7 linked regions of the Homo sapiens genome follow. The protein of the gene in region 1 interacts with the protein of each later gene in a biochemical or structural test. Each region holds a gene or a part of one and is shown in the gene's direction. Other genes may lie near its edges. The genes, in order: SLC15A5, TJP1, MPP3, PTPN4, APBA2, SHANK2 and ARHGEF12.

What was found.
Region 2: the proteins of SLC15A5 (region 1) and TJP1 interact in a test that uses a peptide from one of them, tested with the Homo sapiens proteins (one large-scale study listed by IntAct).
Region 3: the proteins of SLC15A5 (region 1) and MPP3 interact in a test that uses a peptide from one of them, tested with the Homo sapiens proteins (one large-scale study listed by IntAct).
Region 4: the proteins of SLC15A5 (region 1) and PTPN4 interact in a test that uses a peptide from one of them, tested with the Homo sapiens proteins (one large-scale study listed by IntAct).
Region 5: the proteins of SLC15A5 (region 1) and APBA2 interact in a test that uses a peptide from one of them, tested with the Homo sapiens proteins (one large-scale study listed by IntAct).
Region 6: the proteins of SLC15A5 (region 1) and SHANK2 interact in a test that uses a peptide from one of them, tested with the Homo sapiens proteins (one large-scale study listed by IntAct).
Region 7: the proteins of SLC15A5 (region 1) and ARHGEF12 interact in a test that uses a peptide from one of them, tested with the Homo sapiens proteins (one large-scale study listed by IntAct).

Annotation. Positions count from the first base shown.
Region 1 is NC_000012.12:16,243,056-16,247,219, reverse strand, and holds part of SLC15A5 (solute carrier family 15 member 5), read left to right. Parts: intron 1-2,196; exon of another isoform or gene 2,197-2,389; intron 2,390-2,419; coding exon 2,420-2,640; intron 2,641-4,164. UniProt on the Homo sapiens protein: Proton oligopeptide cotransporter.
Region 2 is NC_000015.10:29,703,309-29,707,472, reverse strand, and holds part of TJP1 (tight junction protein 1), read left to right. Parts: intron 1-1,727; coding exon 1,728-1,945; intron 1,946-3,167; coding exon 3,168-3,311; intron 3,312-4,164. UniProt on the Homo sapiens protein: TJP1, TJP2, and TJP3 are closely related scaffolding proteins that link tight junction (TJ) transmembrane proteins such as claudins, junctional adhesion molecules, and occludin to the actin cytoskeleton.
Region 3 is NC_000017.11:43,812,407-43,816,570, reverse strand, and holds part of MPP3 (MAGUK p55 subfamily member 3), read left to right. Parts: intron 1-491; coding exon 492-533; exon of another isoform or gene 534-991; intron 992-1,927; exon of another isoform or gene 1,928-2,209; coding exon 2,210-2,374; intron 2,375-2,479; coding exon 2,480-2,560; intron 2,561-4,164. UniProt on the Homo sapiens protein: Participates in cell spreading through the phosphoinositide-3-kinase (PI3K) pathway by connecting CADM1 to DLG1 and the regulatory subunit of phosphoinositide-3-kinase (PI3K). Stabilizes HTR2C at the plasma membrane and prevents its desensitization.
Region 4 is NC_000002.12:119,962,046-119,966,209, forward strand, and holds part of PTPN4 (tyrosine-protein phosphatase non-receptor type 4), read left to right. Parts: intron 1-570; coding exon 571-699; intron 700-3,451; coding exon 3,452-3,600; intron 3,601-4,164. UniProt on the Homo sapiens protein: Phosphatase that plays a role in immunity, learning, synaptic plasticity or cell homeostasis. Regulates neuronal cell homeostasis by protecting neurons against apoptosis.
Region 5 is NC_000015.10:29,053,086-29,057,249, forward strand, and holds part of APBA2 (amyloid-beta A4 precursor protein-binding family A member 2), read left to right. Parts: intron 1-759; 5' UTR 760-799; coding exon 800-1,750; intron 1,751-4,164. UniProt on the Homo sapiens protein: Putative function in synaptic vesicle exocytosis by binding to STXBP1, an essential component of the synaptic vesicle exocytotic machinery. May modulate processing of the amyloid-beta precursor protein (APP) and hence formation of APP-beta.
Region 6 is NC_000011.10:71,245,414-71,249,577, reverse strand, and holds part of SHANK2 (SH3 and multiple ankyrin repeat domains protein 2), read left to right. Parts: intron 1-4,164. UniProt on the Homo sapiens protein: Seems to be an adapter protein in the postsynaptic density (PSD) of excitatory synapses that interconnects receptors of the postsynaptic membrane including NMDA-type and metabotropic glutamate receptors, and the actin-based cytoskeleton.
Region 7 is NC_000011.10:120,475,717-120,479,880, forward strand, and holds part of ARHGEF12 (rho guanine nucleotide exchange factor 12), read left to right. Parts: intron 1-944; coding exon 945-1,032; intron 1,033-1,502; coding exon 1,503-1,589; intron 1,590-1,730; coding exon 1,731-1,810; intron 1,811-2,439; coding exon 2,440-2,673; intron 2,674-4,164. UniProt on the Homo sapiens protein: May play a role in the regulation of RhoA GTPase by guanine nucleotide-binding alpha-12 (GNA12) and alpha-13 (GNA13). Acts as guanine nucleotide exchange factor (GEF) for RhoA GTPase and may act as GTPase-activating protein (GAP) for GNA12 and GNA13.

The DNA of each region.
Region 1 (4,164 bases):
TTGTTTAAACAAGTTCATTTTTCAAAGTACATATTCAACTGAAGCCAGTGCTTCACATAAAGCATGGTTCATGGAGCAGTGCTGGTCTCTGAACTGTTTGTTGCCAGTATACAACAAAATAAATACAGACACTAAGAGAAAACATATAGAAATATTTATGGACAGTGACATCTTATGTCTGTTGAATCTAATAATAAAAATATCAGGGCTTATATTTTGTATGTCTTTATTTTATGTTTAGATATTTCATTTTTATTGGATTTCACAAATGAATTGACCACGATAGTTGAGATATTTTTTTAAAAACTCATTTTTAACACAGGTTGAAAAGCACTAATCTGAACTACCACTACCTCTCATTAGAAATAAAATGATGGCAATATTTAATAATTTAATAAGATTGCAGGTATCAATTTGTCATGTATTAGAAGCAGATCCAAGTTTATCTTGCAACAAATAGTGATTGTTTATACAAAAAAACGGTTAGTGAGTTTAAAATATATTATATTTAATACAAATTCCTGAATTTTAAAAATTGGGGGGAAACTGGGGAAAATATCTTTGGAAATAATCTTTCATCCTGCAAGTACTTATCATTTAATAATCAAACCTATCTGAAAGCATAAAGTTAATTTGGATCAGTGTTCATAATAACCCTACTATCTACCCAGCACCACTCTGCAAGAGTTTAGCAGAGAACAGGTTGATGAGTAATAGAGACAAGATTGTAAGGAAATGTCAGGAAGTTAAGCCACCCAGCCCAGGCTTGTTCGAATTCAGTCTCCAGACTGTTCATCAACACATTCTCTGTTCTCATCTTACCTAAACCTTAAGTAAACTAATTGAAATAGCTAGGAAAGTCTCATAATAGAGCAGTTCATTCTCTAATAATAAAGAGCAGTCCCTATTACTTCTTTCCTAAGAGAAACAAATCTTGGCCTCTCACAGTGGCTTCTGTCTTCTTGGCCTTACCAGTACCTGGGCCTTCATCTACTTCAGGCAATAGTGACTAAGAAGAGACAAAAGTGACCATAGATATAAGCCTATCTCCTGTTAGCAAGTATCCCAACATACTCCCAGATGACCTAAACACACTTCACAAAGGCCACCAAAGAGCCACAGCTGTAATCATTCTTGGTCACTACCAATTTGGGCTGGATTTGATTCAGTGACTTAGAGGTGAAAGGCTCCATATTCAATTACCAGGCCCCCAGCTTCCTCAATTAATCAAAGGCTGACATAATGGGTCTATTACAACTCTTGAAGAAAAGACCAGATCAAATCAATCTAACCACTTTATAGCTATAAAAATATATTAATACATATTCTTTATTTAAACATAAAAACCAAGACTCTATGGCATATAAATGAATTTCATTAGAATGCATTTTATCTAGAATTTTATTATAGGAAACTTGAACATAATCAAAATGACTTTCAAACTATACTTTGAGTTTCTATAGCAGCCTTCTTTGGAGAAACACAAACATTTTCACATTTATTATGCCATTTACCTGGCAACAGTAGTTTGGTGTCTACGTAATTTCTGGGGGGATTTATCTGGTCAAAGGGAGTGCTATGAAAACCTGTAACTATCATGACAGCACAGCTGAACTGCTGCCTAAACGGGGGTCTCTTATCTGTCATTGTATCAGGAAATCCTAATGGAGTCAAAGAAAAGGTAGGAACTAAAAGATCATAAAAGAAGCAACAATGAGGTTGCAAATCACTAGCAGTAAGTGACTGCTGCCATCTGAAGCAATAAAGCGCTTCTGATCGTGCAGCAACAGCCATGTAAACCTAGAAGAAACTACTGGAAAAGTCAAAAGCCAACTAATCTAATCTGAACTCTTAATGACACTATCAACATGCATAAAATCATTTAGAGAGTTCATAGTCTAACCTTATTTCTAAATCCAAGGATAAAGTCAAAGCAGAGATTACATTTCCCTTCATCTCCATGTCACAATAAGAAGCCACCCTCTACCTGCCAAGTAAAATGAGGATTATTTATATAATAATTTATATGAAAAAATAGTACTAGTTCTTTGTGTTAAGGATGTTAAAGAAAGTTCAGTTTATTGTATTCATTAATGCATTAAAGTTAGAGACTTCTGAGAGATTCTGAAGTCCTTAACTTTGGCGTATTATTTTGTCACCTTTCTTTCCCTTTTAATATGTTTTCATTGATCTTACCTTTTACACTTTTGACATCAACTGCTAGGTGCCACCATGGGCTGGTCATCAGGATGCCAGAATCACTGTCAGAAGCGTGGTCCTTTGAGTCCGACCCCTTGGGTGCTAAAAACTTTCTCACTTCACTGCCGTGAATCCTTGAATCGTTATCTTTCTGATCAGCATCTTGAAAAACTGGAGAACAATTCCTATACTAATACATAATATCTCCGATTACTTGCAGGTTGTTCTCTCCTGACAGGCGTTGGGGTGTTGGTTAGTGCACTGAAAACATGCCACCCGCAATACTGCCATCTTGGCAGAGACGTGACAAGCCAGTTAGACCATGCCAAAGAAAAAAATGGTGGCTGCTACAGTGAGCTCCATGTAGAAGACACAACATTTTTCCTCACCCTTCTCCCTCTCTTCATTTTTCAGCTCCTATACAGAATGTGCATTATGCAGGTAAGGACAGGCGATGAGTACTACCCCAACAACAGGAAAGTGATTGCATGTCAACAGTGCAAGTCAAGGTGAATTTTCTCCCCAACGAGCGCTTTCCATATATGTCGGCAGGCAGTTATCCCCACAGAAACTTCTCATCATTACAGGCTCTGATTTCCAGAGCTAAGCGGGGTCAGGCAGAGGTATACCTGAGGAGACCCTGGGATGTGTTTCTTTTGTGGAGCTATAAATGTCTGTCAGTAGGTGCAGACAGTACTTCAGAATGCATAGTCGTAAGGCGTAAGAGCAGTGCACGAACATATCAGATCTGTAGGCAATTACCAAACTTCCCTTTAGCCAAAGGTTTTGCCTTCCTCCCTCATTAAACCTTTAGAAAGTGGTACTAACGAGTAGCTAAACTGACTGATTTGAGTACCACCTCCACTGTACTCTTAAATATAAGTACTAATGAGCAAGTGATTCTCTCCCCACCCACTCTATTAGTTCCTTGGGGAATTCGTTCCTGTGCTGTGAGAAAATCAAGAGAAAATACAAAGCCCAAAGTACCTTTTATAGATATATGTGATTTTAAATTTTTTTAATGTGGTTAGAGTTAAAGACTAACTTATTTACTGAGAAAAATAAATGATTACAAAAGTATTTGAACAAATCTGGGACTTTGTTCATTGCTAACTCCCAACTTGGAATTTAGAAGACTCATGAATGAGTTACATTTAGAAATCATAGAATAATAGAGCTGCAACAAAATTTAGAGATTAACTTCATAAACTACTTTATTTGTTAAACAGGAACCTTAGGCTCAGAAAAATTAAGTGACTTTCTTTTGGTAGAGGTGAGGCACCGTAGGTCACAGTTAATAGTAGTGTAAGGGAAAGCGGAATCTGTCCTCTGCCTCTCAGTACAGTGCTTGCCCCTCTAAACCAGGGGTTAGCCATCCACTATCTGAAGGCCAAATCCAGTCCACTATTTTTGTACATCCTGTAAGCTAAGAAGATTTTTACATTTTTATATGTTTGAAAAAAATTAAAAAAAGAATAGTATTTTCTAGCACATGAAAATTATATAAAATTTAGCCCAGCGTGGTGGCTTACACCTGTAATCCCAGCACTTTGGGAGGCCGAGGCAGGCAGATTACCTGAGATCGGGAATTCGAAACCAGCTTTACCAAAATGGAGAAACCCCGTCTCTACTAAAAATACAAAATTAGTCAGGTGTGGTGGCCATGCCTGTAATCCGAGCTGCTTGGGAGGCTGAGGCTGGAGAATCGCTTGAACCCAGGAGGCGGAGGTTGCGGTGAGCAGAGATCATGCCATTGTACTCCAGCCTGGGAAACAAGAATGAAACTCCATCTCAAAAAAAAAAAAAAGAGAAAAAGCAAAGAAAAATATATAAAATTTAAATTTTAGCGTCCATAAATGAAGTTTTATCAGAACATAGCCATGCTCTTTGTTTTGTCGTATCTATGTCTGCTTATGCACAAAAATAGCAGAGTTGAGTAATTGCCACGGAACCCATATGTGGACA
Region 2 (4,164 bases), on another chromosome or scaffold:
TGCACATCCACAGATGGTCAGGGGCGGACAGAGCTGGCCTCTGCTCTGCAGCTCAGGCTGCGCTCTGCTCCCTTGATGTTGTGTCGTAGGATGTCGTCCCTGGCACTCCGGTCATGCTGGAGTGAAACGGCAGCTACCTTCATGTAATTCTGTTTCGTTGGTCTTTCTGCTCACCTTTGAGCCCTGGCTCAAAACTGTACTTTCAGGAAGTTGATAGCCTCTACTTTTGAAGCAGTCATTGATACCACATCCCCTTTGCCTTTGGCGTTCTGTGATTACTAAGTTAATCTACTGTCTCTCTTTCGTGGATGTTTGGGATATGCCCATACAAGGGTCTTCGCCTCATGGAACCTTGGAAGCCTTGCCTCCTACAGCCAGAGCGGGCGCTTGGTCCTCAGGGAATGCTGAGGCAGGACCATACTCAGGCACACTTAAAATCCTAGGGAGATTTTATCAAGTCTGAGATGCTGTCAGCCGTGAGATGCACCATTGTTTTGTGTCACTAAAAATGGAAGAACAGCCAGGCACGGTGGCTCATGCCTCTAATCCCAGCACTTTCGGAGGTTGAGGCGGGCGGATCACTGGAAGTCAGGAGTTCCATCCTGGCCAACACGGTGAAAACCCATGTCTACTAAAAATACAAAAATTAGCCGGGCATGGTGGCAGACGCCTGTAATCCTAGCTACTCAGAAGCTGAGGCAGGAAAATTGCTTGAACCTGGGAGGTGGAGGTTGCAGTGAGCCAAGATTGCACCGCTGTACTCTAGCCTGGGTGACAGCAAGACACTCCATTTCAAAAAACAACAGGAAGGGAAGAACAGGGCTACCAATTAAATTGTGACTTACCAGTTTTAAAGTTCCAATTTCATGGATTTTAAAATGTGCTTCATAAAACTCTGTACCTGTTTAGTATCCCTTGTCCAAACTTCTTGGGTTCTGAAGTGTCTCATATCTTGGGTTTTTTTGGATTTTGGAATATTGCCAAAATGCTCCAATGAGCATTTCCTTTGAGCTTCATTTTGACACTCAAAAAAAAGTTTCCGATTTTGGAGCATTTCAGATTTTCAGGTTAGGGATGCTTCACCTGTAGTTGGGTGTTCAAGGCATCAGATTTTACACTTTCAGGTTGCAATTCATTAATGAAGGTCGTTTGACTAATTGCCTTCAAAAATTGAATTTTTGACATTTCTCTAGAATTTTTGAAATTTTCTAGAATGGAATTTCTCTAGAAATAATATTCTCGCCAGGCGCGGTGGCTCACGCCTGTAACCTCAGCACTTTGGGAGACCAAGGCAGGTGGATCACGACGAGATCAGGAGTTTGAGACCAGCCCGGCCAATATGGTGAAACCCCATCTCTACTAAAAATACAAAAATTAGCCAGGCTTGGTGGCGTGCGCCTGTAGTCCCAGCTACATGGGAGGCTGAGGCAGAAAAATCACTTGAACCTGGGAGATGGAGGTTGCAGTGAACCAAGATTGTGCCACTGCACTCCAGCCTGGGCGACAGAGTGAGACTCTGTCTCAAAACCAAACAAACAAACAAAAAAGAAATAATATTCTCTGCGATAACCCTGTCAGTAAAATCTGTTGCCAGAAACTTATCTTGTTAAAGTAACTTCTTGATTATATGGAGAAATAAAAGTGAAAGCACGTAATACAGTAGTAGTAAAAGCAAAGCACCTGTGTATTATTAGGAATTCACTCACTAGCCATTTCTGAACTTTCAGTCCTTCAGCTGTGGAAGAGGATGAAGATGAAGATGGTCATACTGTGGTGGCCACAGCCCGAGGCATATTTAACAGCAATGGGGGCGTGCTGAGTTCCATAGAAACTGGTGTTAGTATAATTATCCCTCAAGGAGCCATTCCCGAAGGAGTTGAGCAGGAAATCTATTTCAAGGTCTGCCGGGACAACAGCATCCTTCCACCTTTAGATAAAGAGAAAGGTAAATGTGTTTATTTTTCTCCTTAGTTTTGATAACTTAAGAGTTGCCCTGTGTGCACTTCAGAGCTTATAGTGCTTGGCTAATAATGCAGCACCTCTCTATCTCCAGATGAGTGCTGTAGCGAGGGGTGCCCTGGGGACGGTGTTGCAAGCAAGCAGTGGGTGGCCTGAAGCAAGGCTGTGGTGACCACACTGCCTGCTTTTACTTTTGGTGTGAAATAAAAAATGATGGCATAGGACAGGCCACGGGATGTCTCACCTGCTGAGCAGCCTAGGCTGACCTAACCAAATTTGTCTTTGAATCAGTCAGCCTTTGCGTCTCTGGAGATGGGTTAGGTAACACCCACTCAGAAAGGCTTTGCTGTGCCTTCACCTGATTGGAGAACCTAAACCTCTTGACAGGTACTGTCTTATTCATCACCCCAGAACCTAGCACTAGTACATGCTCAGCAGAGTGCATGAAGGAGTCTCAGAGGAGATGACAGCATGTTTCTGAGCTTCTTAAGGAAACTTATTTTCATAATCCTCCTGGATCTACCAGGATATTATAACGAAGTGTGTTGTGATTTAGCATCTTTTAGCAGTGCTTTTACTTCCTAAACAAATTTAGTTCGCTTTTTTGTATTTTGCCGGAATACTGACATCTGATTCTGTACTCTGATTTTGGGGATATCCTGTTTTAAAAACCAGTAGGACTGACTGTGTTGGCCCTGCATGAATCTCTTTAACCACCTATGGAGCAAACAAAACATTTTGAAAATGGAAAATATATCACATTCGCAACAAGCACATTTGAATATGTTTTTTATTATAGACCCATATGATTGAATGCAGTAGCCACTGCCTGCACGTGGCTAGCTAGCACTTGAAGTGTGACAATTTGGGATTGAAAGATGCTGGAAATGTGAAATACACACCAAGTTCCAAAGATTTCATATATTGATTACATGTTGAAATAACAGTGTTTTCGTTATATTGAGTTAAAATATTAAAATATTGTAAGATTTGATATCACTTGTTTCTTTTTACTTTCTAACGTGGCTACTGGGAAATTTAAGATTCCATATGTGGCTGCTGTTACGTTTTTTTGTGGTCAGTGCGACTGTAGAGAACTAACTCCATTAGGCTTTCAAGCATATAATTAGAAGCAGGGTGAGGAAAACTGGGATTCTAGAAGAAAGACCACATCCATCCTCTCTGCCTATCCCCTTTTCCAACTCCAGGTGAAACACTGCTGAGTCCTTTGGTGATGTGTGGTCCCCATGGCCTCAAGTTCCTGAAGCCTGTGGAGCTGCGCTTACCACACTGTGCGTCCATGACTCCTGACGGTTGGTCTTTTGCTCTAAAATCATCCGACTCCTCGTCGGGTATGCTGTCTTCACTCTGTCCTTTGGGAGCTTTGGGGACTGTCGTTGATTAATACCTGGGCTGATGATGCTGCCCATGCTGTGTGTTAGCAAATCTCTATCTCTGTTCCTGTGGCCTTGTAGGCATCACCAGTGTTTTCACATTTATTTGTGGTGCATATATTGTAAATAAATATGGAAAGGTAGAAGACTTTCTGCCTTTTAAAAATTGATAATTTGGGCCGGGCGCCGTGGCTCATGCCTGTAATCGCAGCACTTTGGGAGGCTGAGGCAAGTGGATTACCTGAGGTCAGGAGTTCAAGACCAGCCTGACCAACATGGTGAAACCCCATCTCTACTAAAAATACAAAAATTAGCCAGGCGTGGTGGCACACACCTGTAATCCCAGCTACTCGGGAGGCTGAGGCAGGAGAATTGCTTGAGCCAGGGAGGCGGAGATTGCAGTGAGCCAAGATCGTGCCACTGCACTCCAGCCTGGGCAACAGAGCGAGACCGTCTCAAAAAAATTTTTTTTTGATAATATGGCCAAATATTGACTATTTCTTGGTGTTCAGAAAAATGATTTATTCTGTCAAATTTTTCAGGATGCAGTGGGAGATATTGTCCTGCACAAATAGGCATTTTTACCTTATTAAAATGACTTTGTTCCTTTATATAACTATTTCTATTTTTGGTTACTATTGTTTAATTTATTTTTTGTTTGTTTGTTTTGATTTGGTTTTTTGAGGTGGAGTCTCGCTCTGTCGCCCAGGCTGGAATGCGGTGGCACGATCTCAGCTCACTGCAACCTTCGCCTCCCAGCTTCAAGCGATTCTCCTGCCTCAGCCTCGATTACAGGTGCCCACCACCATGC
Region 3 (4,164 bases), on another chromosome or scaffold:
CCCACTGTCTGCGCACCTCTTCCTGCTCTGCCAGCTGGACTGGGCTGTTCCTTGAGGCAGGCAAAGCTGGTGGGGACAGGGTTCAAGGCCTTAGGGGCACCTCCCTGCCCTCCTGACACGTGCGGCCCAGCCTTTCCAGGACTCGGCTACGCTGTGATGGGGCTGGATAGGAGACAAGGGGTGGGAGGGCAGGGCAGGCTGGAGTGAATCCCTCCCTATTCACACTGCTCACACTCAGGGACTGGGGAGGCCTGCTGGCCTAGAATCCCCCTCAGGGCCTGGAAAGGCTGTTAGGGGCCTAAGCATGGAGAACTGAGCAAAACAGAGGACCTTGCTTTCTTGGGGTGTCCAGGACATGGGATTTCCCCTGAGCTCCCCACGAGACACCATCCCAGGGGGCTCTTCCTGCCTGGCCATCCAGGGGCTGGGTGCCCTGGGCCGGATGTGTCTGGTGGGACTCACTGGCTTCCCTCCCTCTGTTTGCTTCCCAGAGACCTGTGACTGTGAGGGCTACCTCAAAGGGCACTATGTGGGTAAGTAGCTCCCCCTGACACCCACATGCACGACCTGCCCCACCCAAGGCCCCAGAGTTAGGGAGAGGTCAAAGCAGGGTGATCTGAGCCCCAGGAGTCCTTCTGGAGCAGTGGAGCCTATGGGACCCCCATCTCTCCTCAGTTCTCTCAACCCAAGCAGGAGCTGAGCCTGCCCAGGCATTGGGCCCCCACCCAGCTTTTACCCAGCTGTGGGGCACACTGCCCTGGCGGGAAAGGCACACACACCCCTACATTAATACCAATTCTATTATCACCATCATTGCAATTGGAGTTTATTCAATATTAACACCACTACCACGCAGTGAGGGGTGTTTGCGGCTCTCCAGAGCCCCTTTTCACTTGTTTTGGTCAGTTTTTTCAAAGGTCTTAGAGATAGGCAAAAAGTTTTTTTTGTTTTTTGGTTATTTTTTAGAGACAGGGTTTTGCCCTGTCTCTCACGCTGGAGTGCAGTAGTGTGTGACATTGCAGCTTGCAGCAGCCTCAATGTCCTAGGCTCAAACAATCCTCCCACCTCAGCCTCCTGAGTAGCTGGGACTGCAGGCATCTGACACCATGCCCAGCTGATTAAAAAAATTTTTTTTGTAGAGATGGGGTCTCGCTATGTTGCCCAGCTGGTTTCAAGCTCCTGGCTTCAAGCAATCCTCCTTTCTAAAAAGTTTTTAAACTTTTTTTAAACTTATTTTTTGAGATATGGTCTTGCTCTGTTACCCACACTGGAGTGCAGTGGTGTGATCACAAATCGCTGCAGCCTCAGCCTCCCAGGCTCAAGCGATTCTTCCCTCTCAGCCTCCCTAGTAGCTGGGACTACAGGTGCATGCCACTATACCTGGCTAATTTTTGTATTTTTTGTAGAGACAGGGTTTCACCATGTTGCCCAGCTGGTCTTGAACTCCTGAGATCAAGTGATCTGCCTGCCTTGGCCTACCAAAGTGCTGGGATACAGGCATGAGCCACTGCACCCAGCCCCTTAACTTTTGTCCTGAAGTAATTTCAAACTTACTGAAAAGGTGTAAGAATTATACAAAGAACTCTCATATACTCCACACCCAGATTCACCAGTTGCTCCTTTGCCATGTTTGCTCAATTTCCTTTCCCACATCTCTGAATTTTTTTTTCCTGAGTCATATGAGACTTAGTTGTAGACATCGTGTCCCTTTAACCCTAAATCTCTCAGCATGTATTTCCTAAGGCCAAGGACTTTCTCAGGGCAGTGATCAAATTCTGAGAATTTAAAATGTATCCAAATCTGTTATATGCTGTTATTTAAATGTTAACAATTGTCCCCATCATGTCCTTTATGACATTTTCCCTTGGTCCAGGATCTAATCTAGGACCACACATAGTAGTTGTAGATTCATATCTTCATTTCACAGGTAAGGAAATTGAGGCTCAGAGAGATGAAGGGACTTGTCCAAGGTCAGTCACATGCCAAGTAAAACAGTGACCTTAAGCCCTAGTTTGTGAATGCAGGGGTCACCCTTTCATCTTATTATTGTATTTCCTGAACAACCTCTTCCAGTAGCAGGAGGAGGTTGGGAGAAGTCAGTGGGACTCAGTCCCATCTCCAGGTCTGGCCAGGTGGGAAAAGTCTCTACTGGGAGATCCTGGGACAACTGGGACAAATGCCATGGTGTCCCTCTGCCCCTCCTCCCAAGCTGGTCTTCGGAGGAGCTTCCGGCTGGGCTGTAGGGAGAGACTGGGTGGCTCGCAGGAAGGAAAGATGTCCTCCGGAGCTGAGTCTCCGGAGCTGCTGACTTACGAAGAGGTGGCCAGGTACCAACACCAGCCCGGAGAGCGGCCCCGCCTGGTGGTTCTGATCGGTAGGTGCCATCCTGGGTTTCCAGGAAGTGATCTGGTTTCCTCCCTGGAGCAGGTGGGGAGGGAGCTCAGCAGGGACCCTGGTCAGCCTTCTTCTTGTTTCCCAGGGTCTCTGGGAGCCCGACTGCACGAGCTGAAGCAAAAGGTGGTGGCTGAGAACCCACAGCACTTTGGCGTCGCTGTTCCACGTAAGAGGGCCCATGTGGGAGTGTGTGTTTGTCTGCACACACACAAATATTCCATGGAGACTTAACTCCCCAGATCCATCCAAATCCTTACTTTGGGTTTAAAGGATCACCAGGCACTGCCTGCTATTGGCAAATTGTGGGACAAAGGCATGATGGGAAGAAATCCACTCCCAGTGGTCCTCTGAGACCCTCTGAGGCAGAAGTTGGAGGACCACTTGCTTGGTTCCTGCCTGGGGTGGGAGATGAGTCCAGAGCACATTGTAGGCAAAGTGGCAGCCTCAACCTGACACCACGGGGCCCCCACAGTAGGGGGCATTCCTCCTCATCACAGTGAATTTTGACTCCTGTGGCCGCTGCCCTCTGCTTGGATGAGAGGGCAGGTCAGAGAAGCCACAGAGCCCTGTGAGTGGTATTTCTCGGCACTCCCTTATAGCCAGATTCCAGTTTGTCAGGGTAGCTGGGTACATTCCTGGGTGATGCCTCCCCTGCCAATTCCTGGGGCTTACTGCTGCCAGGGGCACCCTGGGATGTCAAGCTCCAGTGGGCAGAGGATCCTGGTTCTGAATGTGATAAGGAGGATGAGGAGGAGGAGAATGAAGGTGCCAGGTAATGCACCAAGAGCTTTTATGTGTAGTGCCCTGCGTCAGCCCTCCCAGTACCCCTGAGAAGAGAGATTGTTATCATCTTGTGTGGCAGAGGAAGACAGTGAGGGTCAGAGAGGTTAAGTAACTTGTCCAATGTCACACAGTTGGTAAGTGGTGGAGCCAGGATTCATACCCAGGCAGCCTGCCCCAGTCATGTTCTTAACGAGGATGCACAATGGCCTCTCACCTGCCGCCTCCCACTTCGTGCCCTTGGCTGCCCCTTTTCTTTCTGGGACTCACTCTCAGTCCCCCTGGCCTCAGAGGGATGCAGTGTGAATGCCTGGTGGCTACTGAGAGGGGTGCTGTGGGGGCCCTAATGGGGCCTCCTCAGAGTGTTCTGGGGCAGAGCAACCATGAAGCCTTGCTTTGATCACACCGCTCTCCCTGGGCCCCTGGGCCCAGCGTCTAGTCTGTGGGTTGTCAGAGCTGTCTTCCACAGCCCAATCTGAAGTGGCAGGGATGTGGGGGAGGTGGTGGCCCTGGGGAGGCCATCCTGGCAGCACACCTGTGATGGACCTGGAGGGCTTCAGGGAGCCACGGCCTTCCAAGTTTCAGGTGGACTGAAACAGGACATGCAGAGGTTGCTCACACACTGATCGTTCAGAACCCCTTGGATCCACCCCCTGGAGAAGAGGTACCTGGATGGTCAGGCCCACCTGCTTCTAGGCACTCCACAGATAGGAGACTTTCCTCCTTTGTTTTAGAAACTGGGGGAGTCAGGGAAGCCTTCCCAGAGGCAGTGACTTTTATGCTGGGTTCTGAAGAGTAAATAGGAGTTTTCCAGGCAGAAGAGAAAGGAATAGTTCTCTTTACAGAGGAAACAACATGTGCAAAGGGACGGAGCAGTGTTGGGGACCGGGGAGATTAGTGTGGATGGTGTGCTGGAAAATGGAGCTGAGAGGTTGGGCAGATCACGCAGGTCTCAGATACTCAGCTAGGGTGTTTAGAATGTAACCCATA
Region 4 (4,164 bases), on another chromosome or scaffold:
ACATGAATTACTTGTCATTACAGCTGTTTTAAAAAATCTTAAGATTTAATGAGGATTTTTGCTGCCTCAAAATATAGCCAGATTACTTACTATTAAAAAGGGAAAAAAGTGACAAAGAAAAAATGTCGGCTGGGCGCAGTGGCTCACACCTGTAATCCCAGCACTTTGGGAGACGGAGGCAGGTGGATCACCTGAGGTCAGGAGTTCGAGACCAGCCTGACCAATATGGTGAAACCCCGTCTCTACTAAAAATACAAAATTAGCCAGGCTTGGTGGCACATGCCTGTAATCCCAGCTACTTGGGAGGCTGAGGCAGGAGAATCGCTTGAACCCAGGAGGCAGAGGTTGCAGTGAGCCAAGATCGTGCTATTGCACTCTAGCCTGGGCAACAAGAGCAAAACTCCATCGCAAAAAAAAAAAACACTAGTCAGCAGATCGAGATGAAATTTATTAAATTTTTCTTGTAACTTTTATATGTTTGAAATTTATTAAAAAAACATTTTTAAAAATTGGAGAACATGAATCCATATGTATATAATTTTATTTATTATTTATTTATATCAATATCAGGTTAAATGTCACCAATATTGGCCAGAACCCACAGGCAGTTCATCTTATGGATGCTACCAAGTTACCTGCCACTCTGAAGAAGGAAACACTGCCTATATCTTCAGGAAGATGACCCTATTTAACCAAGAGGTAAGAAGGCAGGATATCTGTTCATTAGAACTGTTGTGTTCAGGGTAAAGACTGAAAGCTGAAAATGTTTTTAGTTTGAGTATTGGTTGCTAGGAAATACTATAAGAATTATTGAATTATTTATCTGCTTTAATGGGGTACTTTGGAATTTTATTAAGAGTATTATCCTATTCTATTATAAAATTAATGTTTTTCTTTAGTTTCTATGACTAAATATGAATGGTCAGTGAAAAAGTAGTCTGGTAAATAATACTACTGTTACTACTTTGCTTATTCAGAACAACTGTTTAGATATGTTTCATTATAAAAAAAACTTTTACTCCAAGTAGTATCAGTACAGTATTTGGGTGTGTCTGTGGAAATGGAAAAAACAATTGAAAGCTATTAAATTATTTTCCTTTTTTAAAAGAGTAGAGGAGAGCAACTTCACAGTCCCCTACCTATTAAGAAGGAAAAGGTTGTAACCAGGACCTTCTGACAGCAGATGGGGTGTAGATTTCTAATTGCCAGCTCTTAATTTTGCCTGAGTCAGTCCTCTTGGCTTCAAATGAAACTGATTAATAAATGATGGCTCAGTATCCCAATTGGAAGATGTATGTAGAGAGCGTCATGCTGCCAGTTCTGTCAGGCTGCTAGAGACAGTGCACCCTACTTTCTCTGCCTGCAGCTAGCTATCCCCCTGCCACCATCTTTGGTTTTGAAAGGGACTAAAAGAATAACTGCTAGAGAAGAGCAAATAGCCCAAGCTATGAGTGCCCAGGACTATCCCATCAATGGTCAAGCCTTTGGAAATGAGAACTCCCCTCCAACCCCAAGAGCATGATTAAAGGAAACCAGAGAGACAGAGTCTTACTGACGAAAAGGGAAGAAGCCAGAAGTTGTGCTGATTTATAGAAAAGGAATCTGGCATTGAATAAAGCTAAAATGACAAGAATTTTAAAATTTCAAAATTTTATGGGCTAGAGTCCATCAGAATGAATTTAGGGTTTGGGGACATATACTGTGTAGCTCATGGTCTAATGTAACAGGTCAAGCCAATATGATATTTCTTCATTTTCTCAAATAGATAATGAAAGATAGGCTACGTATGTTTATATAAAATAATGTCTATCTTTAGCATAGTCTCTATTATACTCCACCTGTAGATTATCCATGACAGTTTTATATACCATAGTGGCTTTTCTTTACACACCCTGAGTACATTAGAACTAAGACATGAGTTAGTTTCTAAAGTTTGAGCCAAACATAATTGGGAAAATGAGTTCGCTCCCATAAATACATACATACATGGATGGATTAATGATAGCAGATACTACCTCAAGTCTTGAATACCTTTTACTTTTACTCTTCAGGAAGCTCTCTTCAGTGTAAATGGCAATAACCATAGTTATAATTATAGTGTTGAATGACTATAGCAACCATTTATTGAGTATATGGTGCCAAGTAGCTGATGGGGTGATTTACAGGTCCTCTCATGGAGTCTTTTTAGCATAAGACTGATCCTTTAAAGTATAGATGTTATTTCATTTTTCAGTTGAAGGAAATTATTTTCTGAAACACTGAATGCTGTAACTGGCAGAGTCAAGATTTGAACCAAGATGTATCTAAACGCAATACTCTTACTGTCTCCGTTATACCAACCTTGGCTCTCCAAAAAGAATTAATCCCACTGATTTGACTTTGTGTTTTTATTAACTCCAATTTTTAATATACATTTATCTTGAGATTTTATTTTTCTGATTTCCATAATTTCATCTGCATTGTGTGAGGATTAGGTCAGCTTTGTTCACAAAAAATGTTTTTTACTTTACCATTTTTGCTCACCCAAGAATTCATTAGTTTTTTTTAAGCATTTCTCTGGGTCTTAATTTGTTTCTACCTATGTACTTGATTATCATCTTTAAAATACTTTACACATATAGAAATTGAGTTATAAAAAGAGTAGTAATGTAATTAGCCATACTTAAATGGATACAACTATTTCTGTAAAATAGTTTCTTTCCTTTTTGTTGAAATTTTGCATTTTAATGAGTTTATACATAACTTTTGGTGGAGAAGAGGAGTGGTTGGTTTTGCTTTCCTTCTAAAATTCCAATGACATGAATATATTTTAAAGATAATGTCATAGTACCAACAGGTTCATATTCCTGCTGTGCAATAACAGACGAATACACTGAGACAGCAGGGATGCAGCAGATAAAGAGTTTAATGATCGCAGGGTACCGAGCAAGGAGATGGGAGGAGACCCTCAAATCATCTCCCCAAGGAGATGAGATCTGGGATGGGGTTTTTAAGGGGATGGTGGAGAGCAAGGGGCTGGGAAGTTAAGATCGTTGATTGGTTGGGATAAGGTGGATGAAATCATCAGGAGGTGCATTCTTTGGTGAGTTAGCTTACCTCAGGGTCCTTTAGACCAACTGAGTCAGTAGTTTCATCAGTATGCAGGACCCAAAAGAATGTCTCAAAGGGGAAATCTAACATTTCATAATGTCCCAAGTTGTTATCTGTAGAGCAGTTAAGGGGAACTATAATCTTGTAATGGGTCTGTGGGATTCTGAGGCAACAGGCACCAACCAACTATGAGGACGCGGGTCAGAGAGCAGCTGACCTAGTGATCAATGCTAAGTGTGCTGCAAGCTGTGTTTAGTTTTCTATCTCCCCCTCCCTTCTTTCCTGATGAATTTTATGAGGTTTGTAGGGACAATTTCAATAATACATAAGTCAAGGTGCATAATTTTTCATTTGTTCTTAGAAAAATGAAAGTCGTCCACTCACTCAGATCCAGTACATAGCCTGGCCTGACCATGGAGTCCCTGATGATTCGAGTGACTTTCTAGATTTTGTTTGTCATGTACGAAACAAGAGGGCTGGCAAGGAAGAACCCGTTGTTGTCCATTGCAGGTACTCTGTTTTCCGTCTTTTATGAGTGTATAGCTGAACAGATACGTCATTTTTAAAAGAGAGTACATATTTTGTCCTTATGGTGTTATTGTCACTGTAATAATTAGAACTCAAAGCTATGCTCTGAAGGTAGGAGGCAAAGGATATGTTCTAACATATGATTGGCAGTAACTTTATCATAAGATATAAAAATAATACTGATTGCACTGATTCTTAGATGCTCCTCCTTTTCATATTTTAACACCTCTGAAATTGGTCTTAACAATTTACAATAGATTTGATGAAGTACAGTACTGTGGGCTGTCTTAGTCCATTTGTGCTATGTAACAAAATATTCGAGACTGGGTAATTTAAAAGGAACAGAAATGTATTTCTTATACTTCTGGATGCTGGGAAGTTCAAGATCAGGGTACACACAGGTTCTCATGAGGGTCTAATGAGGACTGCTCTCTGCTTCCATTATGGCACTTTGTTGTGTCATTCTCTGGACGGGATGAATACTGTTTCCCCACATGCTAGAAGGGACAGAAGGGGTGAACCCACTCTCTGAAGTCCTTTTATATA
Region 5 (4,164 bases), on another chromosome or scaffold:
CTGGGCACTGGGTCCAGGCCCTCTCCCAGTTTGGCCTGCCAGGTCTCTGCAGCTGCCCTGTCACCCCACGATACCTGCAGGCTGCGGCTGCACCCTTTGTCCTCTTCTCCCCATGGCCGAGCAGTGCTGTCCCCTCTGCTGAGCCCTCCAGCCTGCCACGCTGGGGACTTGTGTAGAGCTTTTCTGCACATTGCTCAGCCTGGATGGTCCCTGCGCATCCAGTTCCTCGGTGAACATTGTTCAGTTTGAGGGGGAAGAGGAGGGAGAGGATGGGATAAGCCTGAAGGGGAAGGTACCCAAGATAGTCTTTGAGGGGTCATGGATTTAGATTGGGAAGAGTTATTGTCCCTCCTCATTGGTCCTCATTATGTCTTCTTAATGAAAGCTGCTCATTTTCTTCGTGAGAGCAAACAACCTGATCTTCTGACCATTTGTCTTGGTCACCTGGGCTACCCAAACTGAGTGAGAAGTCAGGAATGAGCCGGTAGGTTCCTGGGGAGAGGCGTGTGTCCTCGTGAGTTGCCGGTGCCTCCCTTGACTGCTTTTCCCGGAGCTCTGTGTGCCCTCGTTCTCCTTGGTGTGGATGCGTGTTGTTCTGATGATGAGTTAGCGGGGGTGGGGATGGCGCACTGTTTGAACAGATGTGCCCTCACATGGCTGCGGGAGGACGTGGTGGGAGGTGCTGTGGTGAAGTGGCCCCACACATGGCTGGGCTTTGTGGGGTTTTGACTCTGTCCTTCCCAATGTTCCTCCCCACAGTGGCTGCCTCCGGGTGATGATGGCTGTGTGAACGACTGCCATGGCCCACCGGAAGCTTGAGAGCGTGGGGAGCGGCATGTTGGACCATAGGGTGAGACCAGGTCCTGTCCCTCACAGCCAGGAGCCCGAGAGCGAGGACATGGAGCTGCCCTTGGAGGGCTATGTGCCCGAGGGCCTGGAGCTGGCTGCCCTGCGGCCAGAGAGCCCCGCGCCAGAGGAACAGGAGTGCCACAACCACAGCCCCGATGGGGACTCCAGCTCTGACTACGTGAACAACACCTCTGAGGAGGAGGACTATGACGAGGGCCTCCCTGAGGAGGAGGAGGGCATCACCTACTACATCCGCTACTGCCCTGAGGACGACAGCTACCTAGAGGGCATGGACTGCAACGGGGAGGAGTACCTGGCCCACAGTGCACACCCTGTGGACACTGATGAGTGCCAGGAGGCGGTGGAGGAGTGGACGGACTCGGCGGGCCCGCACCCCCACGGCCACGAGGCTGAAGGCAGCCAGGACTACCCAGACGGCCAACTGCCCATTCCGGAGGATGAGCCCTCCGTCCTTGAGGCCCATGACCAGGAAGAAGATGGTCACTACTGTGCCAGCAAAGAGGGCTACCAGGACTACTACCCCGAGGAGGCCAACGGGAACACCGGCGCCTCCCCCTACCGCCTGAGGCGTGGGGATGGGGACCTGGAGGACCAGGAGGAGGACATTGACCAGATCGTGGCAGAGATCAAGATGAGTCTGAGCATGACCAGCATCACCAGCGCCAGTGAGGCCAGCCCCGAGCATGGGCCTGAGCCAGGGCCTGAGGACTCTGTAGAGGCCTGCCCACCCATCAAGGCCAGCTGCAGCCCCAGCAGGCACGAGGCGAGGCCCAAGTCGCTGAACCTCCTTCCCGAGGCCAAGCACCCCGGAGACCCCCAGAGAGGCTTCAAGCCCAAGACCAGGACCCCAGAAGAGAGGCTGAAGTGGCCCCACGAGCAGGTAGGACCCTGGCTGTCCTGGGGAAGGGAGCAGAGGGGCCCGAGAGCAAGGGACCTCAGGGTACAGGCCTTGCAGATGCTGAAGCGAGGCGGTGGGGGGTGCTGGGTGCCTCACAGTTCTAATGGTGGCTGAGCTCTTCATTGGTCCAGTTGGGAGACATGTTGCGTGGATGCTCCGGCCACTCTTAAGCTCACCGCTCAGACTCAGGACTAAAGCCGGTTGAGGGCTGAGTGGCAACTCGTGTCTCGCAGAAGACACCCCTCCTCCCACCCTAGAAGAGAGGTTCGATTTCTTGCCCACTGCCCTGGTCTGCTCATGGTGGGGCAGTATGTGTGGGAGAGCCCCTCAATCCTCAGGGGTGTACTCAGACCAGCAGGGCAGTGGCAAAGACGTGGGGGTGCTGGTGCTCACCCACTGCTGCGGCCAGTGTTGGGTGGCCTGGTGGCTGGGGTCGGGGCCAGAGTGCATTTCACAATGGACGGGTCTCTGAAAGCCCGGGGGCCTTGGCCTGATGGGCAATCAGCTGTGAATACCTATTTGGAAAAGGATTTTTTGAAGGTTTGACAAAACCTCGGGGAAGAAACGCATGCTAATGAGGGCAGTGGATGTCAGCATAACTGTATTTTAATTATAGCAAAGTCAGCGTGCATTCTAATAAACACATTTGAAAAGCCACCTTCCAAAAAAAGCCTCACTGTGAGTATATAAAGAAGATGTGATTATTGGACTTGTGTGAAGGAACTTCTATTTGGCCAATTATGTGGACTTCTGTCATATTTTTTTACAGCCTTAACTGTTAAATATTTTTTTCCGAGAAGAGTTCATGAATTTGAGTGTGTGTGTGTGTGTGTGTGTGTGTGTGTGTGTGTGTGTGTGTACTGAGAGCTTGGGTTTGGAATGGAAATCATTGGATTTTCAGCACTTATATTTTAATTGACTCCTGGATTTTCAGCACTTGTATTTTAATGTCTTGTATTCTCTCTAAAGAACGTTAAGTGTCAGTTGACTTCACTTTGGGGGTGTTCCTGTCATTCACAGCAATTCCGTGTTTACAGGGGGCTGTGGGATGCATAGGAGCTCCCATGGTACTAGTGGGTGTTGGGAGAGTTCACCCCTAAGGCCAGGAGGCTCTGGACCCTGGGTCTGGGCTTTAGGCCAAAGCAAAGTGTTTCTTTGGTCTTTAGCAGGGCCTGGGCTTGTCCCACAACAGTGGTGAAGGCACCTCAGGGATTGACGTGGGCTGTGCAGAGCGTGTGACATGCTGCGTCTTATTGTGACAAATGGCATCGCTAGCCAAGTTCTTGTCAAAGAAGATTATCTTTAGAGCGTGGTGGGGAGTAAGCAAGACCTGATATTTTCTGGTTTTGTGCTTCATGCTAACCAGATGGTAATTTGGGTAAAAACACAGAGATCTTGCGATTGGAGAGCTGGGAGGTAAATGAGTGGGAATGAATGGATGGATGGGTGATAGTAGCTGTTTAAAAGGGCAGGTGGAGGTAGGGGAAGTCCCCAGCCATTGTGGAGGATCAAGAGGATGTCTGTTCTTCCCAGAAGAGGCATTGAATGAAAAAGTATGTCACTTCTCCCCCTAAGGAGAATGTGTCCTTGAAGGACATGCTCTTGTCTGAGACACTGGAAAAGTTCATTTAAACTGGTTAATGATTGTATAGCTTTTGTTTTGTTTTGTTTTTCCCTCCCTCCCTCCTTTCTGTCCTTTCCTCCTTTCCTCCCTTCCTCCCTTCCTCCCTCCCTCCCTCCCTCCCTCCCTCCCTCCCTCCTTCTCTCCCTCCCTCCCTCCCTCCTCTCTCTCTCTCTCTCTCTCTCTCTCTTTCTTTCTTTCTTTCCTATCAGTTCACAAATTAATTCTGTCAAGGGGAACACCTGCTAGTTCCAGAGTTCCAGGCTGACAAGTACCCTGGTGCCAGGGGCCCTGACTACTCTTTCTGAAGACTCTACCAGGCCCGCTGCACGTGGGCAGGGTCTCCACATTCTTAGATTTGAGTACCCCATTCCAGATGAGGACCTCTTTGAAACCTGACCAGAAAGAGCCGTAGAATTCATCTTGAAAGCAAGATTTTTTATGAAGGATGTGCACTGGGAGATTTGGTGCTGCCTTGCTTGAAATAACAACCTGCTTTCCTAAGAACAATCCCCTTCCTCCCCTGGGGGACAGCCAGGCCGTGCCAGGAGCCAACAAAGGCCTGGCCTCAAGCAGGTGCACAGGGTGCCATGTGTCCCATGCTCACCTCTCTGATCCCAGTGCTGTCCACATAGTGTAGTGATCCCTATGGTTGAGGCTGCAGTAAAAAAAAAATCTGAAGGGAGAAATGGGCAATATTGGTCACTTAGATGCTGTAGACTCCTGTTTTTAACCCTAACCCAGCAGCATTGGCATTACTGGGGAGCCCCGCCCC
Region 6 (4,164 bases), on another chromosome or scaffold:
CTTACCTGCCTGCAATTCCAGCCTCCTGCTTTGTAAACTCAAGCCGGAGCTTTCACCTGGGGCTGTTGTACCTGGAGTCTGAGGGCCCCTCCTTGGGGCAGCAGGGAGGGTGTGGCTGAGAAAAACCAGTGGAAATGGACGCGCACAGCCTCTTCAGGAGCCTCCACTTCTCCTGTAACTGGGACTGTGAGCCCCAGGGAGGGACCCTTGAGAATCTTCTTGCCTCCACATGACCTCCAGCAAAGTTCTTGACCCTGTCCGTTTCTATAGACTGGGGAATTTGTGGAAGAAAGGGAAGGAGAGGGGAGAAGGGAGGATCGCTCCAGACAAAGGCGGGTCTTTTCCATCTCTGGAGTCCCCCACCCCTTGCCATTCACCTGGGCACCGGGAGAATGAATCACTTGTTGAGAGGCTGTAAGCATATTGAGTGCAGGGCTTGGAGCCTGCAGCCCCCCAGGGCTAAGTGACCTTTGTGACTTGGCCACTGCACCTAACCTCCCACCCAAAATGAGAGGCCTGTCATTCTCTCATGGTCAGAGGATATCTAGGGTGTATTTGTTTCTTTCCGCGTGAATAATCATCTGAGGGCCTGCTGCCACATCCAAGCCTGGACTGGCCACAAGGGCTGCCTCCGGGAGCTTCTAGGATAATGGGGAGGAAGAGGCGTGACTGGACAGTCCAGTTAGTCCGTGTTGTGACAGGGCTTGTGATGGAGGTGAGCATCGAGTGCTGCAGGGCATAGAAAGGGTCCCCAACCCAGCGTGGGGTGGGGTGGGGGGATACAAACCCTTGGAAGAGGTCTGGGTTGTTTGATTGCATCCTCCTGGGACTGAACATGGGCCTTTGGCAGAATGACCCAGTCCTTGTTCCCAGGGTGGGGACAGAGCCACCCGCTAGTCACAATAATAACGTCAGGAGCTGCAGCGCAGGTAGTGAGACTCTCACCGAGCATTTTCCTTTTGATTGGCATTAGTGCCACACTCTTGCTATTTATTCCCTCAGTAAATCTCAGAAGTCCAATGAGCCAGCTCCGATTCATTACGATTCCCATTTCACAGATCAGAAGCTTGAAGCTCAGAGGAGTGAAGCCGCTTGCCTTAGCCCACACAGCTAGTGGGTAGGGGAGCCCTTGACCCCACACCGCCCGGTGGTTAAATGCACGCTGCCCAGCTGGAGAAAGCCGCCAGGCAGCGGTTAGAAAATTAGTCTTCTGGTTCCCGTGCTGTGAAATCGCGCTGCGGTCAGCAGGTGAAAACCAGTTTCTCATCATACTTCTTGATGTGCCCCACGTTTTCCATTGTTGAAGGCAGATTCAAGGACTGGTTTGATGCCGCTGATGGACGGCTGTCTCCTTGGCCATGGCGCCAGTACTGATGCTGGGCTTTGGGGTACAGTCGCCTCTGATGCAAGCCTTCCCTGCATTCTAGGGTTTCTGTTCTTTGCAGGGCGGGGGACAATGGGCCCATGCCCACTACCCAGAGCCTGCCCTGGGTTTAGGGACCATAGCCTGGGTCTCTCTGGATGCACATATGCCGGGGATGGGCCTTCAGGGAGGGACTGGCTGAAACGCAGCTCGCTCCCTGGGAGATTAAGTTCTTAAAAGCCTGTGGGGCTGCCAGGAGTTTGCTGGCAGCAGCAGGGACATGCTGGGCTCCCCGATTGGCTGCCAGATGTCATTGCCAAACCCGGCACTGCACCAGAGCACGACTGGGGACAGTGTTTTAAAATTGTCCTTGCTGGGTATGGTAGCGACTCTGGGGTTAGCTCAGTGAGGGGCGTGTGAATGGAATTAGGCCACAAACTCCCAATCTGAGGCTGCAGATTCCAAATGGTGGAATGCAGAAGGGCTCCTGGCTCCCCGTCCCAGAAATTCTGCTGCAGCAGAAAGGCAGCACGGGAGCTCCCCCAGAGGGAGAGGAAGATCAGCTGGAGCAGCCCTGAGTTGCTGGACTTAGAAAGGCCTCACCAGAGACCCCCCAGGAGGCGTGCATTAGAGGTCATAAGCACTGCAGCTCTGCCATGGCCCTGCTGGGCTGGGGCCTGCCTCTTCCATTTTTTTTTTTTTGTCTGTCCCTGAAAGTGTTGTTTTTTTTAAAAAAAACAGCTTGTTCTCTCATACATTTTCTGCAACAATTTTTTATGAAAAATTCAAATATCCAGCAAAGCTGAAACAATTGCCAGTAAACTCCTTTCAGATTGTGCCATTCATCATTTACCAAGCTTCTCACACATTTTAAAGTCAACGTCTAAAATTTTTCTTTATAGGTTTAAATATTTGTAAAGGCTACGGTACCTCTGTGAGGTAAATATCGATATTTTAAAAGGAACTGTTGCCTGACTCTTTACCCACTGTGATATAAACCCATCGTGACTCACAGCCACTTTTTCTTGACGGATACGTAAGTGAGCTTTAGGACATTTTCATCGTTCTTTTCTTGAATTTATACAGCCACTTCCCCAAAGAATTTTATCCTAATGTAATAGACTTTTATGCTCATGGGTCTTTTATTAATCAACCTAGCATACTTCTCTGCACGAAAAATATACATAAATTGACTTTCATAAAATTTCCCATGACCTGGAGTTGCTAAGTATTTAAAAAAATTACTTCTGAATTGAAAAAGCTGTACAGTCATTGCTGGGGCGCAGTTGGTCAAAAACTATAAATATATTACAGATTTTTAGAAATGGAAAAGGGGAGCTGTTACTGGAGCTGCCTCTCTGAGTGAGAAGGCAGTGGGTGTTTTTGGTGTTTTAATTGAAGCCCTAGTTGCATTAGCCCTTTTGTTTTGGTATCAGGAGGGCCCTTCACCTGGAGCTGCACCACCCCCTCACCAGCTTCCGGGGGATAGCTATGCCTTTCTTATGTAAAAGAGCCTCAGGGATGTTAGGGAGGGGAGGTGGGCAGGGGATCCAAGGCCTTTCTCCACTGAGCAATTTCAGGAAAGACTTGGCTACCCTTTAGACTGAGCTGGGTCTACGTGGAAAGGGTCCTTGCACCTCAGTTTGAAGCCCCCTGCAAGGGAGATCTTAGTTCACAAGATTACACCTGTACTCAAGGTCCTGCAGGTGATTCTTACCTGGGGACAGTGATGATACTTACGTGAAGGCAGTGACATGTGATGCCAGGTGTGTGCTCTGCATACTGCCAGGCTTTGCTGCCTCCCTGCAGACTTGGGGGTGTCCTGCCCCACGTCTTCCTCACTCCGGCTCATCAGTCCCCTCCTCTTCTCAAGGAGAATCCAGAGTCAGCACCTAGAGTCCTCGGTGGGGGTGGGGAATGGCCAAGAGTCTGGACAGCTGGCAGTCTGCTCCCTGGTCCACTGGGGTGGGTCCTGGGAGGCTTAGGGCCCAAGGAATGGGGTGCAGGGCATCCTGGGTTTCCAGACCTGGAGCTGACACAGACTTCCGGGCTCCTGGGAGGTGGGAAATGAGCTTCCAAGCCTGTCTTTCCTGAAAATCCTGCCCTGGATTCCTTCCCTGGGGAGAATGCAGGCTTCCTGGGGAGTGGAGGGGGATGCTTCTGTGGCCTCATTTGTACCCCTGAGAGCATAGGGCTCAGCCGTTCCTGTCCATGTTTTTCCTGCCACCCCGCACAAATGTCCCTGGGATTTGAAGAATCTGCTCCACTCCCCTCTTCCCGTACAGGGGCCTGCAAACTAGAGGCATTTGCCCCTGGGCCAGCCGGGCTCCTGTCTGACCCCTCCTCACGAGGTGGACAGGTCCCCCAGGAAAGGGACCACGCCTTGCTCCTGTCTGCATTTCAAGGTCCTACAGTGGCCCCAAGCATGGACCAGGGGACTTTGGCAGGGGAAGATACTGACCCGATGGCGTCGCTACTGCCCCTCGTCTTGGTTCTGGACTTTCCCTCCCTCGAGGGTCATTCAGCTCCAGTGGCTGAACTTGCCGAAGGTCGTGTGGCCCAGCTGGGATCCACACCTGGCGGCTGCCCACTCCACCGTGCAGAAGAAGGCACCGGTCGCTTCCCCGGCCTCCAGATTGCCTCCTGGGTGGCACACCAGTTTATTTTTCTGTTCACTTTCAGGTAAAGCAGATGAGGTAGCACAGTGGTTGTCAGACTTCTAGCTTAAGGAATCTTTTTTGCTCTCTTAGCATTTTGAAGGACCCAGAAGCTTTTTATGTATGAGCACGAATCTATTGTTA
Region 7 (4,164 bases), on another chromosome or scaffold:
CATTTGAAAATTTTTATGCTATTACTTTGGTTCTTTATGTTCAAATCATTGATAGATCCCAATGAAAAGCCTTTCATTTAGGGTGGTATGTTTTTTGATTTGGTGAGAAAAAAATCAAAAACCAAAGAGACGGATGTAGTGTTGATTAAAAATCAAATTTGACTGGCAAGTTATATTTTAACTCTATTAACAACGGGGTCCCTTTTAAAACTTGTTAGTTTCATGGTGGCAAAATAAATTTGTGACCTCTTTTCTCCACTACTCACTGAATATTATTAACTAACAACTTAGCAAAAGTGCAGTTCAAAATAAATGCAAAAGAGTAATAGCATTTAATCTGGTAATTTGGATTTATTTATTTTTTTTCTTTTGAGACGAGGGTCCCACCCTGTCACCCAGGCTGGAGTGCAGTGGTACAACCTTGGCACACTGCAACCTCCACATCCCAGGCTCAAGCAATTCTTCAACCTCAGCCTCCTGAGTAGCTGGGACTACAGGCATGCACCACCATGACCTGGCTAATTTTTTTGTTTTATGTAGAGGCAGGGTTTCGCCATGCTGCCCAGGCTGGTCTCGAACTCCTGAGCTCCAAGCGGTCCACCTGCCTCGGCCTCCTAAAGTACTGGGATTACAGGTGTGAGCCACCGTGCCCGGCCAGTAATTTGGATTTTTGACATGCTTTTAGCAAAGTTTCTAGTAAATTATTGTGGAATTAGTGCTAATTCGTATAATCTTTGTTTTATTGAAGTACAATAAATATAGTACAATAAATACGTTAATATGGTAAGTTGCACAAATTTTAAGTGTACATCTTGATGAATTTTAAAGTAAATATATGTAACCTTTATCTAGTTTAAGGGGCAGACTATTTCAAGACCCTAAAAACATCCCTCATGGCCTCCCCAGGTCATAGTATTAGAGTAATCTTGTATTGTTTTTTCCAGATAACAAAGCTTTATTCGTCATTTCCATGTCAGACAATGGCGCTCAGATTTATGAACTGGTGGCACAGACAGTTTCTGAAAAGACTGTGTATGTATCAGATATGGCTACCTTGCTATAGCTAATATTTTCATTATCCCAAGCGTAATATTCCATAAACTTAACTTTGTTTTTATAATGTATGGAAACCAAGCACTTCCTCTGTACTCTTTTAGAGACGTTCTACTATGAACTTGTTCTTTTTTAGGTTGATGCCTTTTATTTTGATTCTATTCTGAAAGTTTATTTCCTAAAGAAAAAATTGTGCAAAATGTCAAGTGAAGTTTTTTTAATGTGTCCATAGATTTCTCTTAAGGTATAGTTTTGGACTCTCGCCTTAATAGTGTGTTGCCAAAATAAAGATATTCTCTGGCAGAGTGGGTTTTGTTGTTGTTGTTGTTGTTGTTGTTGTTGTTGTTGTTGGTTGATTTGGTTTTTGTTTAGTTTTGCTTTCTGAGTATATTTAAAGGATATTTCTTTTTTCTTTTTTGTATTTTGGATTTCTTTCCAACTTTCTGAAGCTGGCAGGACCTAATCTGTCGGATGGCTGCATCAGTGAAGGAGCAATCCACAAAGCCAATTCCATTACCACAGTCAACACCTGGCGAGTGAGTGTTCCTTTGCATTGTAGTAGGACTTATTTTATGTTTTGGGTTGGAAAAGACTAGGATAATTATTATGTTTTGTTGCGATGATGTTTAGATACCTCAGGAAGGTAAAAGTTTTTTTTTTTTTTTTTTTCTCTACAGAGGAGATAATGATGAAGAAGATCCTTCAAAATTAAAAGAGGAGCAGCATGGCATTTCAGTCACTGGTTTGCAGAGTCCAGGTACACTCTTCTGAAGAGTTCAATGGAGAATGTGCTCTATTATCTGTTAAAATGCTGGCCGGATGTGGTGGCTCATGCCTGTAATCCCAGTGCTTTGGGAGGTCGAGATAGGCGTATCACCTGAGGCCAGGAGTTAGAGGCCAACCTGACCAACATGACAAAACCCTGTCTCTACTAAAAAATACAAAAATTAGCCGGGCATGGTGGTAGGTGCCTGTAATCCCAGCTACTTGGGAGGCTGAGGCAGGGAGAATTGCTTGAACCCAGGAGGCGGAGGTTACGGTGAGCCGAGATCGTGCCATTGCACTCCAGCCTGGGCAACAAGACCGAAACACCAAAAAAAAAAAAGAAAAAAAGAAAAAAAAGAAAATAAAATAAAATGCAAAGAAACTTTAATACTGTTTGGTTTATGCAGGTTCCAGCATCAGAGATTCAGTTTAACAAACTTTGCCTTTGAGCCTTCTGTGTGTCAGTATAACACTGTTCTAAGTGATGTGTATTTTTCTTAACAGATGATCTCTGTAGTTTATGGATTGTTTTTTTTTTTTCTGATTCTTCCCTGAATGCTTCATGTTAAAAGTTAAAAGCTTTGTTTAGATATAGTCTACCTTTTCTATTCCATTGGACAGACAGAGATTTGGGATTAGAATCTACCTTAATATCGTCAAAACCTCAGTCTCATTCACTGAGTACCTCTGGGAAATCAGAGGTACGTGATCTGTTTGTGGCTGAGAGACAGTTTGCAAAGGAACAACATACAGATGGGACACTAAAGGAAGTTGGAGAAGATTATCAAATCGCAATCCCAGATTCACACCTGCCTGTCTCAGAAGAACGGTGGGCATTGGATGCACTAAGAAATTGTAAGTTTTATTCATAACTTATTACAGATACTTACTAAGTATGACACTCATGTGCCATCCCTAAAGTATGTGGATTTATCAAACTCCACTTATTCTTCTAGTTCTATTGTGGAGATTATAGTATTCTCTACAGTGGCCCATGCCACAGGCACACACACACATGCCACTCTGTTAGCTCCCCACCCCCCTGCCTGGTTCAGAATCACTGTTAAAATGGGAGGATAGCATATCTCTCAGTTGTATTGAGGTGGGAAAAAGGCTGAGAACAATTTCTTTGGCTGGGGAGAACCACTTGAAATTTTTAAACCAGCGTATGACTAAAGGTATGAAAAAAGATTAATCTGGCTGAAAGCGGTGGAAGGATTTGAATGGAAAGAGGTATGGAATGGTGTACTTACTAAATAAGCTATTATAATAGTCTGGCCTGAGACTAAAAGAGTTTGGACTAGAATGTTATCAGAAGGAATAAGAAGAAACTGAGAAGTCATCAAATGCTTAAAATAATTGACTTCTTTGAATGTGAGGTCAAAGGAAAGGGAATATTTAGAGATAATTTCATTAATCTAGTCAGAAATAAGAGTCAGAAAAGGACTACCACTGCTTCCCCCACCTCCTTCCATTGTACTTTCTTTTTTCTTTCTTTTGATTTGGTAGAATTATAGGCTCAGTTTTAAAGCATGTCAAGATTAAGATAATGAATGACAAAACACTAAAAAGTGAGTAACTAGCAGGAAGTTAGAGTTTTAGGAGTGAAACTTTAGAGAGAGGTTAGGAAGAGATAGAGATGTGAGCATCAGAGCCATGAGACTTCCTGGCATCTCTCAGGAAGTGATTGTAGAGCAGAAGGACAGAGGATGAGAGACCTAAGTGGAACCTGTTGCCTAAAGAAACATGACAGACATTAAGCTAGTGATGAGAGCAGAGAATTGGTTATTTAAAACCTACAATATTTTTTATACCTTCTCCTGAATTAACAGTCTTAATAATTTCTGATGGTTGGAATAACATTGTCCCAATAACTCTATCATTGTCTGGGTGACCTCATAGCATACACTTGGCCCATTCAAAATTAAATTGGTTCTTATTTTCAGTAAATGTATGTATCTCATAAAATTAGAGGAAATAATATGCATATAGTGTCTGGATCTGGAAAAAGCAGAACTTTTTTTTAGCTTTTTCTGTCTAGCTTAACACAGCCTTTCAACATTCTTAAGAAGTACCTTTAGGGTATTATTCTAGTTATATAGAAGAAAAAATAGAGGCATGATATTGGTTATTGAGGAGTTCTAAATAGTAGTATCTCCCTATTCAGAATGCTTAGATCTTTTCAAGTTTAGTTTAACGTTAAATCTTCTCTAAAAGATGGTGCTTTATTTCATCTTCAAAACAAAATGGAAAATGATTGTATGAAGTAAGATGATTGTATGAAATTAATAATTAACATTTTAATATGTCATTAAAAGATACTTTTTAAAGATAGATCATTGGTAA